Linked DNA regions of Homo sapiens. The protein of the gene in region 1 interacts with the protein of each later gene in a pairwise test. Each region holds a gene or a part of one and is shown in the gene's direction. Other genes may lie near its edges.

Region 1 (7,279 bases):
CAGCTCATTTGGGAATATTCACTTGGAAATGTTCTGTAAGATAGTTTCAAGTCTTAGGAGTCCAGAGGTGAAGCTGCCAGGCAGCAGACAGATGTAACAGTTTGGGCCGAGGTAATAAGGCCTAAGCGAAAAAGAGATGAAAAGATAATGGATATGACAGTTCTATGTATCAAACATTTCAAAGTTCAATTCACAGGAATTAGCAAGTGATTGCATAGATAAAGGAGAGAGAAGAGAAAGGGCAGAATGGATTTTAAAAGCAAGTTTAAGAGATATAAATATTCAACTGCATCAACATTCATCTCCTTGCTTTCTCTGCCTTCCAAAAATGAAAGCAATTTGACTTGAATTGCGTTCATCTCACACCCATTATTTGAGGGAAACATTACCTTGTTTATTTTATATCTGATAAATCATGGCATCATAGGATTGTGTGAGGCTTGGGAAAGCCATCTCTTCCATCTCTCTGTTTGGGCAGAACAGACCAGCAGTAAAAACTGCCTGAGAAAGGAGGCTGGCTCTAGAGCATCCTCCTTGTATGTGGCACCGAGTAATTCTACTCAGAATTATTGGGCAGTTCTACCTAGAAATGGAGTTTCTATTTACAAATGGAACCTCTAAAGCAATGATTGGTTTTAGGAATCATTCTACCTCACCTCTGGATTATAGTATTATATTTGTATGAAGAAAGCAGAAGATGTAGATTTGCAAACTCTGCCATTTTCCTTTTCTGTATCAATCATTCTGTCTAGAGAGAGGGAGCATCCTGATACATTCCGGTCCCTTTGCCCCAGTACATTGCCATAAACAAAATGATACATTTCTCAAAGCCCTGGTTTTTGTTTTGTTTTGTTTTTGTTTTTGTTCTGTTTTGTGTTTTGAAACGGAGTCTCACCCTGTCACCCAGGCTGGAGTGCAGTGGCATTATCTCAGCTCACTGCAACCTCCACCTCCTGGTTTCAAGCAATTTTCCTGCCTCAGCCTCCTCAGTAGCTAGGACTACAGGCGCCCGCCACCATGCTCAGCTAATTTTTTTGTATTTTTAGTAGAGACGAGGTTTCACCATGTTGGCTAGGCTTGTATCAAACTCCTGACCTCAGGTGATCTGCCCGCCTTGGCCTCCCAAAGTGCTGGGATTACAGGCGTGCGCCACCATGCCCAGCCCAAAATGGATACGTTTCTTACATGGGAAATGAATGGCAATCTAACTGCAAATTCTTGAAAGTCCCCATTTAAGAAAATTGCATTGCTTTTTAGGTAACCTGTTGAACAGTTTCAGCGTGAACCTGGACACAGTCTACTTCCAAAGTCCAGGTGCTCATGGAGGACCCTTTCTCCAAGCTCCAGATCTGTCTGTTCATTGTGGTAGCTGCTAGCCACCTGTGGCTTTTGAGCCCTTGAAATGTGGCTGGTCTGAACTGATATGTGCTGTAAATGTGAAATACACACCAGATATCAAAGGCTTAAGATGAAATAAAGAATATAACACATCTTCATTAGTAAATTTTAAATTGATGACATGTTGCAATGACCATGTTTTGGATATGCTGGGTTAAACAAATGCATTGTTACAATTAATTTCACCTGTTGCTGTTTACCTTTTTAATGTGGCTGCTGGAAAATTTCAGTGATATATTTGGCCATATGACATTTCTATTGGGCAACATTAAAGTATGAAACTGGTAATTCTCCAGGGAATTGAATAGCTCCTGCGTGAAGGTTGGGTGAACGGGAAGCAGGTGACAGGGATTGATAGGTAACAGAAGAGGAAACGGAGGAGTAACAAGAACAGTATCTCAGCACTCTAGGCCTCAGAGAGATTGTCAGTGGCACCTCCAGTCGCACCTGAAACTGAACAGACAGTAACCAGTGGGCCTGTTTGTTTTGCTCCTAGCAACAGGTCCCAGCTGGTCCCAGCCCAGCCGAGTCTGCCAGATGCTTTTCAAGCATGTTGTGGTAATACAGCCTGGTGATGGCAACATCCTGAATGGCTGTAGCAAGGAGCTTTATCCAAAAAGAGTAGCAGCTGTTTTCTAGTGGCTCTTCAACTACATCAACACTGTTTTCCTGAAATATTCTTAGGTCCCGTGTGCAAATGAGTTTTCTGCAGTCTCCAAAGTTGGTGGTTACAGGTCCTGTGCTTTATGTTTTGCTGAAATCTTCACTCTTAACCACCATCACTTTCCTCTTGAATGGTATTTTTTTTTTTCTAATGTGACATGGGAGAAATTTACAGACATGCCAATCAGAATTTCTGAGTATGTTTTAGAATTTGAAATATATCTGAGTGATTTGAGGTTTTGTTGTTCTTACAATATCATGCTCATTTTATTTTTCTCTCTCTTTTTATGTGAAGACTCAATTTACCTGTTGCTGTATTTAATTCCTTTGAATTATATAGCCTTGGCCCTTTCAAGAGAAGCTAAGCAAAATATGTTAACCTCATAGGGGATGGTGATACTCTACAATTTTGTGGCATGTCTCTATCCTACACGTAGTCTAGGTCAAACATAACATAACATGGTTATGTTACAAACTAATTGTAACAATGCATTATTTCACAACTGCAGACAGAGAAAACTACTTATGACATCACTTAAAGGAACCGGGCCTGTCTTACTGATCTTTCCAAGCCTGGCAGGAGGTAGACTGTGAAGAAGGCATGTGTTGTTCCTGGCTTTCTGCTCTCCCTGCCTGTGCTCCTCCTTACTGGGCAGATAGATCTCTGCTTCCTGGCCTCCTCCTTCCTCCCTCCTCCCTCCTGTACCTGCTAGACACCCACCCCCATCCCCAAGAACTCTATTTATGCAGGCTCCTTGTTCCTTTCTGCTTTTGTGTGAACTGAGCCATATTATAAAAGGCAACTTACTTCTCTCTTTTTTCTAGGAATGTCATTTAGCTACTTCTTGCCTAGTAAAGGATCTTACCCTTAGCTTATTCACACTAAGCTATTGGTAAATGAGGAGATTTGATACATGATTTCTCTCTGGATAGTTTTGGCTTTGTTTGTTTTAGGTCATAAGATGAGGAAAGTCTGGAAATTCAAAGGGATAAACATCAATGAATACGAACTGAGAGAGATGGAGACTAATTTTTTTTTTTTTTTTTTTTTGAGATGGTGTCTCACTCGGTAGCCCAGGTTGGAGTGCAGTGGTGCAATCTTGGCTCACTGTAACCTCCACCTTCCATGTTGAAGCAATTGTCCTGCCTCAGCCTCCTGAGTAGCTGGGACTACAGGCACATGCCACCACGGCCAGCTAATTTTTTTTTTTTGTTTTTCGAGACAGAATCTCGCTCTGTCACTCAGGCTGGAGTGCAGTGGCGTGATCTCGGCTCACTGCAACCTCCACCTCCTGGGTTCAGGCGATTCTCCTGCCTCATCCTCCTGAGTAGCTGGTATCACAGGTGTCCGCCACCACGCCTGGCGAATTTTTTTGTATTTTTAGTAGAGATGGGGTTTCACCATGTTGGTCACATTAGTCTTGAACTCCTGACCTCAAATGATCTGTTTCCCTCTGCCTCTACCTCCCAAAGTGCTGGGATGACAGGTGTGAGCCACTGTGCCCAGCCTAACTTTTGTATTTTTTAGTAGAAACAGGGTTTCGCCATGTTGGCCAGGCTAGTGTCAAACTCCTGACCTCAGGTGGTCCACCCACATTGCTTTCTCAAAGTGCTGGGATTACAAGCATGAGCCACCGTGCCCGGCCTAATTTTAAGTGTCAGTATTTTGCTCATGGGAAGTAATCTGTAGGTAGGAGAAGTGTCACAATAACCATAAAAGCACAGAAGCCACATCATTCTTCAGGTTGTCCCCAGGGGCTGCCAAGACAACTTTGAGTGCACGGCTAAAATCTCCAGTTAACTGACAACTTCTGTAATTAATTATTCCTGTCTCCTTCAATCATGCAGCAATTAGATTTTCATTACCTGTGAAAAGGTCAACATTTATTTGCTGATTTTTAAGACTGGAGTCCATTCTTAAGTTACTTCGTGTCAAGGAAGATGGATATTCATTCACACTAAGCTGATATTAACATCATGATGGATTTTGAATGTCTTTTTAATAAGTCATTAATATATTTTTGGAAATTTCTTAAGAATTTTTTTCCCTAGTTTCTGAAATCTTAGCTTGATGTTTTGGAACAACTAAAGGAATATAAATATAAGAGTTTTTTTTTTCTTTTTACTGTGGTGACATAATTTGTTTTAAGCTTCATATAGCTAATAGCAATTAGTGGAAATTAGTGACTTTTGGGACTCTTTCAAGAAGGACACAGAGACCTGCATGTGTCAGGGAGAATCTATAGGTAACACCTTGTACTACAGCCAAATCCCCTTTCCTGTCTCCCCTTTTCCTTATACAACCTGGGCTGCACTAATGATTAACTGTTTCAGATATTGGGCGTTCATATATTTTAATGCTGGTAAAAAATATTTAGAAAAACTGTTCACAAAAGTAGCTGCACTTGAAGTAGCAAATTAACTAAAACAATTACATATATTTTTTTTTTCAAATTTAGTCAGCTAAATATTTGAACACTTAATCTTCCCTGTCTTTTCCGTTTGGGAGAGGTTTGGCCTTCACTTTTTTCCCCCCTTAATTCCTTCAGAAGAAGTAGTCTAGTCCTTATTTTCAAGGATTTCAAGTAACTGAAAACCAAATCTTTCGAGCAAGATGGACTTAATTTTAAATACACATTAGATTAAAATAAATTTAATTTTGTAATAGCAGGATGAATTTTCACTAACATTTTTAAAGGTATATGAAAATGGACTATTAGCTTTCCAAAGATGCTTTAAATGTTTTTTTGTTTTCTGATCCTGACTGTTATTATAATAACAAAATAACTGGTCAGTAAGTAATCACTCTACAGTTTTTTAAAAAAAAAGAAACTTTAGAAGAGAAATTCCTGTGGAAATTAGTAAAATAACAGAATAGAGATATAATGAAGCATATATATTTATTTTGTCTTTTAATATGATATATGATAGGGATTTGCTCTAACACTCTTAAGGCATGAGCAAATGAATACTTTAAATAAATCATCCCTTATACACTTAAGTAATTGAAGAACAATTTTTTTTCTCAAAACTATCACCAGCATGCATGCAGTTCAGTGTGCTATAGTTGTTTGGTGTATAAACTATCTTAGTACAGTTGAAAACTGTAATAATTTCATTACATATACTTTGCATAGGTAGCTAAGTACGCCTGAAATAACATTTATGAACAGGATTCCCAGGGGTCTGGAAAAATTAATGTGAGTTTTTAAATGTGTTCAACTTCTTGCAGAGAACAGCCACCTCCTCTGTGACTGAATGTCTTCAACATTGTGTGGCTCTCACAGTGCCTGTTGTACAATTGTAAGCAACCACAAAAAAGCTTACACATTCAAGAAGTTGGATAATGAGACATATTTATCACTAAAATGCTAAAATTAAAGGACAATAGAATTGCGAAGATACTCTTTTCTGTTCATTTAAAAACGGTACTGGAGGCTGGACATGGTAGCTCACTCCTGTAGTCCCACCACTTTGGGAGGCTGGGGCGGGAGAATTGCTTAAAGTCATGAGTTCAAGACCAGCCTAGGCAACATAGTGAGACCCTGTCTCTACAAAAAACAAAAATTAGCCAAGCACGGCAATGTGTGCCTGTAGTTCCAGTTACTTGGGAGGCTGAGGTGGGAGGATTGCTTGAGCCCAGAGGGTGTGGGGTGTAGTCAAGGCTGCAGTGAGCCATGATCATATCACTGCACTCCAGCCTGGGTGACAGCACAAGACACTGTCTCAAAAAAAAAAAAAAAAATGGGATGAGATTATATTTTGTCTTTGTTCTCAAAGATAATTCATGTTCCTCATGAGGATAAACGGTGAATTTAACAAAGATTGTCGCTACACCCCCAAAGAAACAGGCCTTAAAAATACTTTCTAGGTAATAAGTATTTTTGCACATAGGTTAATATAAATTTAAAAGAAAATTTTAAAGAGATTTTCATACTTTATTTTAGCCTTCTTAGGCCTTAGAAAATGCATCTGTCCAAACCTTTACATAATAATTGGAAAAGAAAAAAAGTGGTTAAAAGAATGTTATTTTTCAACAGTTTACTGAATAATGTTTACACAAGTAAAAAGAATGAGCTGTTAACCGAGGACAACCTTGTATATTACATTATGAAAGACCAGCGTAGCTTTCTTGCCGTTTATGAAGTTGAGAGTTAATTAAATGTCATGGAAACACATTTGTATTATATAAATCCCTTAGATACTCTGAATAGAACAAACATATATAAGAAAATTTTTTGCTTTAAGATGATACCACCCTCTCACTGATAGCAAATTCGTCTAAATTACTCATAACGCAAATGTTTGTAATAGATTTCAGCTTGCCTAAGTGCTACATATATTATGGCAGATATTTTAATGAAAAGCATATGAATAGAGAAAGCATAACCAAATAGCATTTTGAGAACCTGAATGTGATGATTTTAAAAATAAATGTTGTAAATTTTGATAATCTAAGGAAGTCTCTATGAGCCTAATAATTGTCAACATGTTATACGCTTTAGTCCAGTTTGTTTCCACATCTTCCAACCCCTGTATAGGTATCACTTTTTATGTATTACTTTGAGTCCTTACCATGTGTTAGATCTTATGCTAAATGCTATAAATACATTATTTCGTTTCATACTTAATCCTATGAGGTATTATTTCATCTAATACTTAACCCCATTTTAAAGATGAAAAGATTGATGCTTGAAAAAGTTAAGAAATTTGGTGAAGATTTGCTATGTCCAGGATTCTAACCTGTGTGCTACATTTAACTCTAAACTCAACTGTTAAGCTATTGTTCATTTATATTTTAATGTTTAATATTTGCCCTTACTGCATCTATGCTTAGAATTAAACATAGATTGATGTGTAGTTTATTCTTAGGGTTCTGAATGTAAACATAATAGGAAAAGCAAGTTCATTTTTAGATGTTTCTGCTTGGCCCAATCCTATTATCGAAACAAATCATCTTACCTTTAACTTCCTGTTTTAAATGCTTATTTTTAAATGCTTTATCATTACAGGCTTTTGCCTCTTGCCTGCTAACACATTTATAAGACGACATCCATTGTTTTAATTCACTAGTTATTAAATGCTTTGCCAAGAAAACCCTCCTCAGCCGGGTGCAACGGCTCATGCCTGTAATCCTAACACTTTGGGAGGCCAAGGCGGGCGGATCACCTGAGGTTGGGAGTTCGAGACCACCCTGACCAACATGGAGAAACCCTGT
Region 2 (7,688 bases), on another chromosome or scaffold:
AAGGAGTCCACCATGATCCAGCTGCCATCAGATATTTGGCTGTGATCTTCAGGGAATAGTGCCACACTGAGGACTCAGCATTGGTCTCTGCTTTTGGTAGGTTAGGTACTCAACAGTGATGGTAGCCAGATTAGCTACTAGTTTTAAGCTCATGCATCGCCTTCATGCTTTCATCATGGTAGCCTGCATCCTGTGTACATGGGCTTATCAAGGAAACACTGATGTCTGGGGGAAAAGACTGACTGATATCCACAGAATACACCAGCTTGTTCACCTGACTGGTAGAGCCTCCTTTGCAGTGGATGCCCTTGGGTGAGTGTTCACAGGGAACACAACTATCTTTACACTCTGTGCCCACTTTGAGATATCCTTATACTTGTTCACCATACTTCCTGTTACTCACATTCCAATCTTGTTCTTTCTGAGTCCTTGAAACCTAGGACACCACTCACCTCTGCCTATGAACCAACATCGATTGTATTATTGGCCATCTCTCAGCTCAGACAACATGGACAACCAAATGTCCTGCTTGAAGTTCTGCTCGCTAGGATTTCCATTCTACCCTATTTCTAGCATCTTTCAGGGACACTCCTGATGGGTGTCATAATGCTTCAGCAGTCCACTGTTGTGCAGAATAACGTATACACAAGACCTAAGATTTTTTCTCCTCAGTCATCTAGCTGGGAAGAGCTCCCTACTAGGCCATAGGTTTGGATTGTAGGAGAAGATGCCACACAGTAAGAGTAAGTGTAAGGCTCTGAACCGCCTGTTTATGTAGTTACTTGTAATTCTAGACCTGCTCATGTCCAAGTTCTTAAATACCATTTTTACTTGATAATGAATCACTGCTGTGCATGCTCAAACTTACAGTTGTGTGGGTCAGATATGCTCAGGTCATGATTGGCAGCTCAGGGGTCATTCAGTGTCCTAGGGTGATGCAGGGCCCAGTAGCCAGGGCCCAGTAAAGAATCATGAGCTGTGTCTCAAAAGAAGAATAGCTGCCTGCAGAAGCAGCATGGATTTTCTCTAAAACCCTGGAGGCCTGCGCTGTGGTTTTATCTATGATTACTCTGTACAGCATCACTACTTACCATAGATACTTTAAGTATCATTGTCTATTAGGGTTCTCCAGAGAAACTGAACCAATCGCATGTAGATATAGATACTGTTCCATGGTAAGCAGGTTTATGCAAACCTATCCTCAAAGGCCATGGAAGCTAAGAGGCTGAGGAAAGAGGCTGACAAATCCAGTTTCTCAGAAAGGAACATATAATAGGGACTTAAGAACAGAGGCCATGCTCCTGGAAGCCATGAGACAAGATGGTGGATCCTATACCATTACTCACCAGACCCAGAGCTTACATACCTCAGGGAAAGGGTATGTATGCTTCAGAAGGGATGTGTAGAACAATTGCTTAAGGTCAGGATTTATGGTAAGTACTATAACATTAAAGTTGTTTTGATCTAAGGGCAGGGCTTACAGTAAGTACATGCTCTCATGCAAGGAACAGTAGATAAAACAGACTTTTTTTTTTACTATACTTTAAGTGTTAGGGTACATGTGCACAACGTGCAGGTTAGTTACATATGTATACATGTGCCATGTTGGTGTGCTGCACCCAGTAACTCGTCATTTAACATTAGGTATATCTCCAAATGCTATCCCTCCCCCCTCCCCCCACCCCAAAACAGGCCCTGGTGTGTGATGTTCCCCTTCCAAAACAGGCATTTTAAAGGCATTCCTGGAACGAGTTAGACAGCAGTGAACACGGTGGGTTAGCATCTAAGAGGGAGTGGCTGTAGCCTCCACAGATGTATAGCTATATAGAAAGATATCTATTTAAATTTTGTTGACTTTTGGTGATGTCAGCCCTGTAAATATAGGATACAAGTTTCTTTTAGGACCACCACAGAAACTCTCTGGTTCTCTGACTGTGACTTGAGCTGAATTTAAAGACCTGAGCTTGTTACTTTTCCTTTTATAAGTATTGCAGGGCATTCTGAAGTGGCCATCTCCATCCCACAGAACTTGCAGTTCATCATTATTGTCATAGTGATTAAGTGTAGCAGCCAGTTGGTCCCCAAGGCATTTGCTCCAATAGGCAATTTTTCACAACCTACTACAGGTGCTATTTTTATTAGTTTTGATGCCACTTCATGCCATGATCTACTAATATCCCATGTTTCATTGATGAGGACTCAGCATTGTATTTGAGGCCAAGAATATGACCAAATCAATTCCAGAATCCCATCTTCACAGGTATGTTTCCTAACCCCACTGTGAATACGACATATCAGTCAGAATCACTTAGGGAAACAGAAACTATACCAGTTATTTTAATAGAGAGAATTTGGTATAGGAAATTAGTTTAACAGATACTGGAGGATTGAAAAGGCAAAAAATAAACACTAAGAACACTTAGACTTAGTGAAAGCAGGCTGGGGGAACAAAAGGAAGAGGTTGGGCTTATATTAGAAATCAGAAGCTTGGATAAGGGCCCTTGTGGAGCTGGGATGCAGCTCTCTGAGTAGAAAACGTCCTTCAGCTAATGCTGGCATCTCAGGAGCTTGGACAAAGAACAGTGGCTGGTGTTGGTTTCCCTGAAGGGGCACAGTGAGGCTGATTGGAGGGCAGGAGGAGGGTTCTGGAAACTGGAACTGTTACTGCCAGGAAGAAGAACTGTTGTTGGAGTGACACTGACAGTAACAGCAAGCAAAATAGAAACTGCTAAGTGCCTTCTCCTTTCTCCCACCTTGAAGTCTCCCTGTAGCACCCCCTATTGGCAAAGCCTAACTGGAGCAGCCTGGGAAAGGAAAAGTGTGCTTTGAGAGTCTGAGACAAAGAGAAGTTTAGAAAGGTGGGTTTGGAGCTGAGTCACCATAGCTTAATAATCAGCATAGTTTTCTTGACTGTAACCTGGTTGTTAAAAGAATGAAATTATGTCACCTATATTAAATGTATAGAATTACACCTGGTACATAGTAAGTATTCAATAAATGTTTCCCCTTCACTCATCAATTGAGATGATCGTGTGTTGTTTTTTCCCCTTCATTCTGTGAATATACTGCATCACATAGATTGATTTTTGTACGTTGAACCAGCCTTGCCTTCCACTTGGTCATGGCATATAGTCCTTTGAATATGCTATTGAATTCAGTTGGTTAGCTTTAAAAAAAAATTGCTATTTACCATCTAGACAGAGGTGGGGCTTTTGGAAGAAGCAGCTGAGTCAAACGGACCTTGAAAATGTAATTGGAGAACTTTCTGATCTTTCTGCTCTGAAAGCAGTTCCAGTTTGCATTCATGAGCTGTCTAAAGGAGGGTGATCTGTTTCCTCTACTCTCTCAGGCTTCCCAGTTATTCTTAGTGGATATAGCTAAAGGCAAATGGAAAACATAAATTGAGTGATTTAGAAGACAGTTTTGAGATCCTAGCTTTTTTCTAAATGTCAGGGATTGTTTTGACTGTTAACTTAGGAGTTAAGAACCTGAAAATAATGGCAGGCTAACTTACCAGAAATTTATAGTTAAAGAGAAAATCTGGCTTTCCTGGATCTCTGATCTAGCTCAGTGGGAAAAAGGGCAGCCTGTTCCTATAGCAACTCCACTCCAGCCTTGCTGCTCCAAGGCACATCCAGGAAGATACCTCAGGGGTCACCTGCTTGCTTTTCCATCTGTTTGGCAGTGAAGTAGGAGATTACAAGCCTTGTCCTGTAGCAGGGAGAGGCATTTTCATGGGGAAAAATGTCCTTTGGTCTCCTAGAAGCATTTAAGGTTAACCTGGGGTTGGGTTTCCTAAGATTTCTTGATGATGAATCACCTGAGGTCCTTCCCTTGGATATTTGGTTCTGTTGGTCTGAAATGGGAGCTCACATTTTGTCCTTTAAAAAAGTGGCCCATGTGATTTCTTTGTCAAGGGAAGTTTAGGAAGCCCTGCCTTAGGGCAAGACGGCAGCCCTCTCAATTCTGCAAAAGGAGCTAATATAATATTTAATTACTGCAGAGAGCATCGGCTTGAATAAAATCTGTCTAGGAAGGAAAGAAGGCTACAGTTATTAATCAGTGGAGGAAGAAACTCATGGGGCTGTTTGGAAGTTTTGCAGTCATGAATGACAGATAATGTTATTGAAAATTAAACTGTCTTCTCTACATCAACTTGGGTTTGGTTGTAAAACATAGTAGGTTCCAAAACACAGCTGGTTGTTTCACCTTGAAGACCAGGAACTGTGTGGCCACCATGGAGGGAGGGTCCGAAGCATGTGTCCTAGTGAGCCAGGTCATATCTGATGCTTATTCAACCACTGGCAGTGATGCAGTGCATAAAAAGGTTTCCTATGACGTTGTTCCTCTCCCAAAGCTGGAATTACTCCCCAAACGCAGAAAGCAAAAGGCATGTGGGGCTGGCCAGAAAAGAACAGGATCTCAGGGCTTTGTGAGAACTGTTATTAAAGTTTAAGTATCATCACAGCTAGGGGTTCTTGAAGTAGATAGGAATACACACGCAGTCAAGAAATAGGTGTCTGTCTATTCCTAATGAACTGAACCACTAGGTAAATCAGGTTAGACTCCTGTGCATGTGTGGATATATCAAGGGCCCCATTCACTGCTGGAGACCCTTGAGGGAGCTCTGCCATTTCTACAAAGTTGGGTAGGACAAAAACAGGGTCTTATGGCAGCGTCTTAAATTGCTATAGAAGAGTACCTCCTGGGGCCAAGGCAGGAGGAGCACTTGAGTCCAGGAGTTTTGAGACCAGCCTGGTCAACATAATGAGACCCTATCTCTACAAAAAATTTTAAAAATTGGCTGAGCATTGTGATGTGTGCCTGTAGTCCTGGCTACTGGAGAGGATGAGGTGGGAGGATCGCTTGACCCAGGAGGTTGAGGCTGCAGTGAGCTATCATTGTGCCACTGCATTCCAGCTGGGTGACAGAGTGAGACCCACACCCTAAAAAAACAAAACAAAACAAAAAAAAGAAAAGAAAAGAAAAAGAAAGAGAAAGATGGGCTCAATAAGTTAATTTTTGAATGTGTGAATGAATGAATGTGAATTAGAGAGACAGCTTGTCATTGACTTGCAAAACAGAGACCTCCACTTGTTGACAATACATGAGAAAACTTCAGGCTTCATTTCTCAGACCTTTATTCTTCTAAACAAGGTCCAGCCCTCTGTGTGTTACACCCTGTTAAGCACAAGCCCTAAGTTCTTCTATAACTAATTTGGACCTGTGATTCCTTGGTTCTCACAATCCTCTCCACTCTAAGAAGCAGGGTGAGCCCACAAGGAGCAATGGAGCAGGGCAGCGGCCGCTTGGAGGACTTCCCTGTCAATGTGTTCTCCGTCACTCCTTACACACCCAGCACCGCTGACATCCAGGTGTCCGATGATGACAAGGCGGGGGCCACCTTGCTCTTCTCAGGCATCTTTCTGGGACTGGTGGGGATCACATTCACTGTCATGGGCTGGATCAAATACCAAGGTGTCTCCCACTTTGAATGGACCCAGCTCCTTGGGCCCGTCCTGCTGTCAGTTGGGGTGACATTCATCCTGATTGCTGTGTGCAAGTTCAAAATGCTCTCCTGCCAGTTGTGCAAAGAAAGTGAGGAAAGGGTCCCGGACTCGGAACAGACACCAGGAGGACCATCATTTGTTTTCACTGGCATCAACCAACCCATCACCTTCCATGGGGCCACTGTGGTGCAGTACATCCCTCCTCCTTATGGTTCTCCAGAGCCTATGGGGATAAATACCAGCTACCTGCAGTCTGTGGTGAGCCCCTGCGGCCTCATAACCTCTGGAGGGGCAGCAGCCGCCATGTCAAGTCCTCCTCAATACTACACCATCTACCCTCAAGATAACTCTGCATTTGTGGTTGATGAGGGCTGCCTTTCTTTCACGGACGGTGGAAATCACAGGTATGGCGTGTCTACTGGGGGAATGCACTCCTTCTAGCCATCTCCGTCATGATCTGTGGCTGTTTGGTCCATGAATAAGGTGTTGGGAGACTGTGAATCTCTTCTTAGCCTGTTGCCCACGATGGCAGCCTTGGTTCTGTGAATGGTGCTTTGGACCATAATGTACCTGTGTTTTCTGCTCACATTTCAGGCCCAATCCTGATGTTGACCAGCTAGAAGAGACACAGCTGGAAGAGGAGGCCTGTGCCTGCTTCTCTCCTCCCCCTTATGAAGAAATATACTCTCTCCCTCGCTAGAGGCTATTCTGATATAATAACACAATGCTCAGCTCAGGGAGCAAGTGTTTCCGTCATTGTTACCTGACAACCGTGGTGTTCTATGTTGTAACCTTCAGAAGTTACAGCAGCGCCCAGGCAGCCTGACAGAGATCATTCAAGGGGGGAAAGGGGAAGTGGGAGGTGCAATTTCTCAGATTGGTAAAAATTAGGCTGGGCTGGGGAAATTCTCCTCCGGAACAGTTTCAAATTCCCTCGGGTAAGAAATCTCCTGTATAAGGTTCAGGAGCAGGAATTTCACTTTTTCATCCACCACCCTCCCCCTTCTCTGTAGGAAGGCATTGGTGGCTCAATTTTAACCCCAGCAGCCAATGGAAAAATCACGACTTCTGAGACTTTGGGAGTTTCCACAGAGGTGAGAGTCGGGTGGGAAGGAAGCAGGGAAGAGAAAGCAGGCCCAGCTGGAGATTTCCTGGTGGCTGTCCTTGGCCCCAAAGCAGACTCACTAATCCCAAACAACTCAGCTGCCATCTGGCCTCTCTGAGGACTCTGGGTACCTTAAAGACTATAAAACAAAACAAAACAAAAACATCAAACCAATGAAATAAAATAAATCATGTCTCCTGCTAGAATAGTATTGGATACCTGACTAAATTACACAAAATAGACCATAATAGGATAGCGCTGTGAATACATCCTTCCCGATCACTGAGTCACAGTGACCCTTGGCTGCTGCTGTTCTCTTCTGCAAGGTTGAAGCTTGACGTGTGATGAACATGGGTGGGCTCTTGGTCCACCCCAGGCTGGGGCCTGCGCCAAGCATGAACTAGCTGGGACCAGTGGCTGACAGAACACAGGACTTCCCTAAGTACCCGTAGGTCTGTGGAGCAAGACAGAGCAGAGTTGCCATGTCAACACATGGGGAATGATATGATAGAAACAATCTTTATGACTAAAAGAAACTCATCTTCTTCATTAAAAAAACTTTGGTGTCCTTAATCTCTCTGAATTTGGCTGTGTAATAAACAACTGGAACTGACTCACAGACTTTAGAAGAGACAGTTTAAAACCATTAGGTTTTAAAAGAAAATATTTGCTTTGGGCTTCAAAGGCAATGCCACTCAAGGTAAGGGTGGTACATCCTAAAGGAAGACACAGGATTAAGCAATTCTTAAAAAAATTTTGACATAGCGTTTGTATATGGAGCAACTTTTACTAATTTTGATCAGAAGTATCTAGGTTTCCAAGGATATGAGTGAAGTAAGCTTGGTATATTATTGTTGTCATTTATGTTATATCTTGGGGACAAAACCTTTTCACATACACTGTCATGTTTGATGATAGGTGATAAGTGAAAATGATTTCATTTAAAGAAACTAGCTTTATGTTCAGCAGATCCCTGAGACACTGGTCCCTAGCTGAGGGCCATTGGTTTTGGAGAAGAAGTTTGGTGACAAGGACCAGGCTGAGCATCACCAGTGGCATGCTGACCAGCAGAT

Evidence for each region.
Region 2: the proteins of CACNB2 (region 1) and TMEM174 interact in binary tests that used the Homo sapiens proteins (3 or more experiments, as listed by UniProt).

The regions. Positions count from the first base shown.
Region 1 is NC_000010.11:18,143,216-18,150,494, forward strand, and holds part of CACNB2 (voltage-dependent L-type calcium channel subunit beta-2), read left to right. Parts: intron 1-7,279. UniProt on the Homo sapiens protein: Beta subunit of voltage-dependent calcium channels which contributes to the function of the calcium channel by increasing peak calcium current. Plays a role in shifting voltage dependencies of activation and inactivation of the channel.
Region 2 is NC_000005.10:73,167,956-73,175,643, forward strand, and holds TMEM174 (transmembrane protein 174), read left to right. Parts: upstream 1-5,237; 5' UTR 5,238-5,288; coding exon 5,289-5,914; intron 5,915-6,104; coding exon 6,105-6,210; 3' UTR 6,211-7,188; downstream 7,189-7,688. UniProt on the Homo sapiens protein: Regulator of plasma phosphate homeostasis. Decreases serum inorganic phosphate (Pi) uptake by regulating the sodium-phosphate cotransporter SLC34A1 trafficking by PTH and FGF23 in the kidney.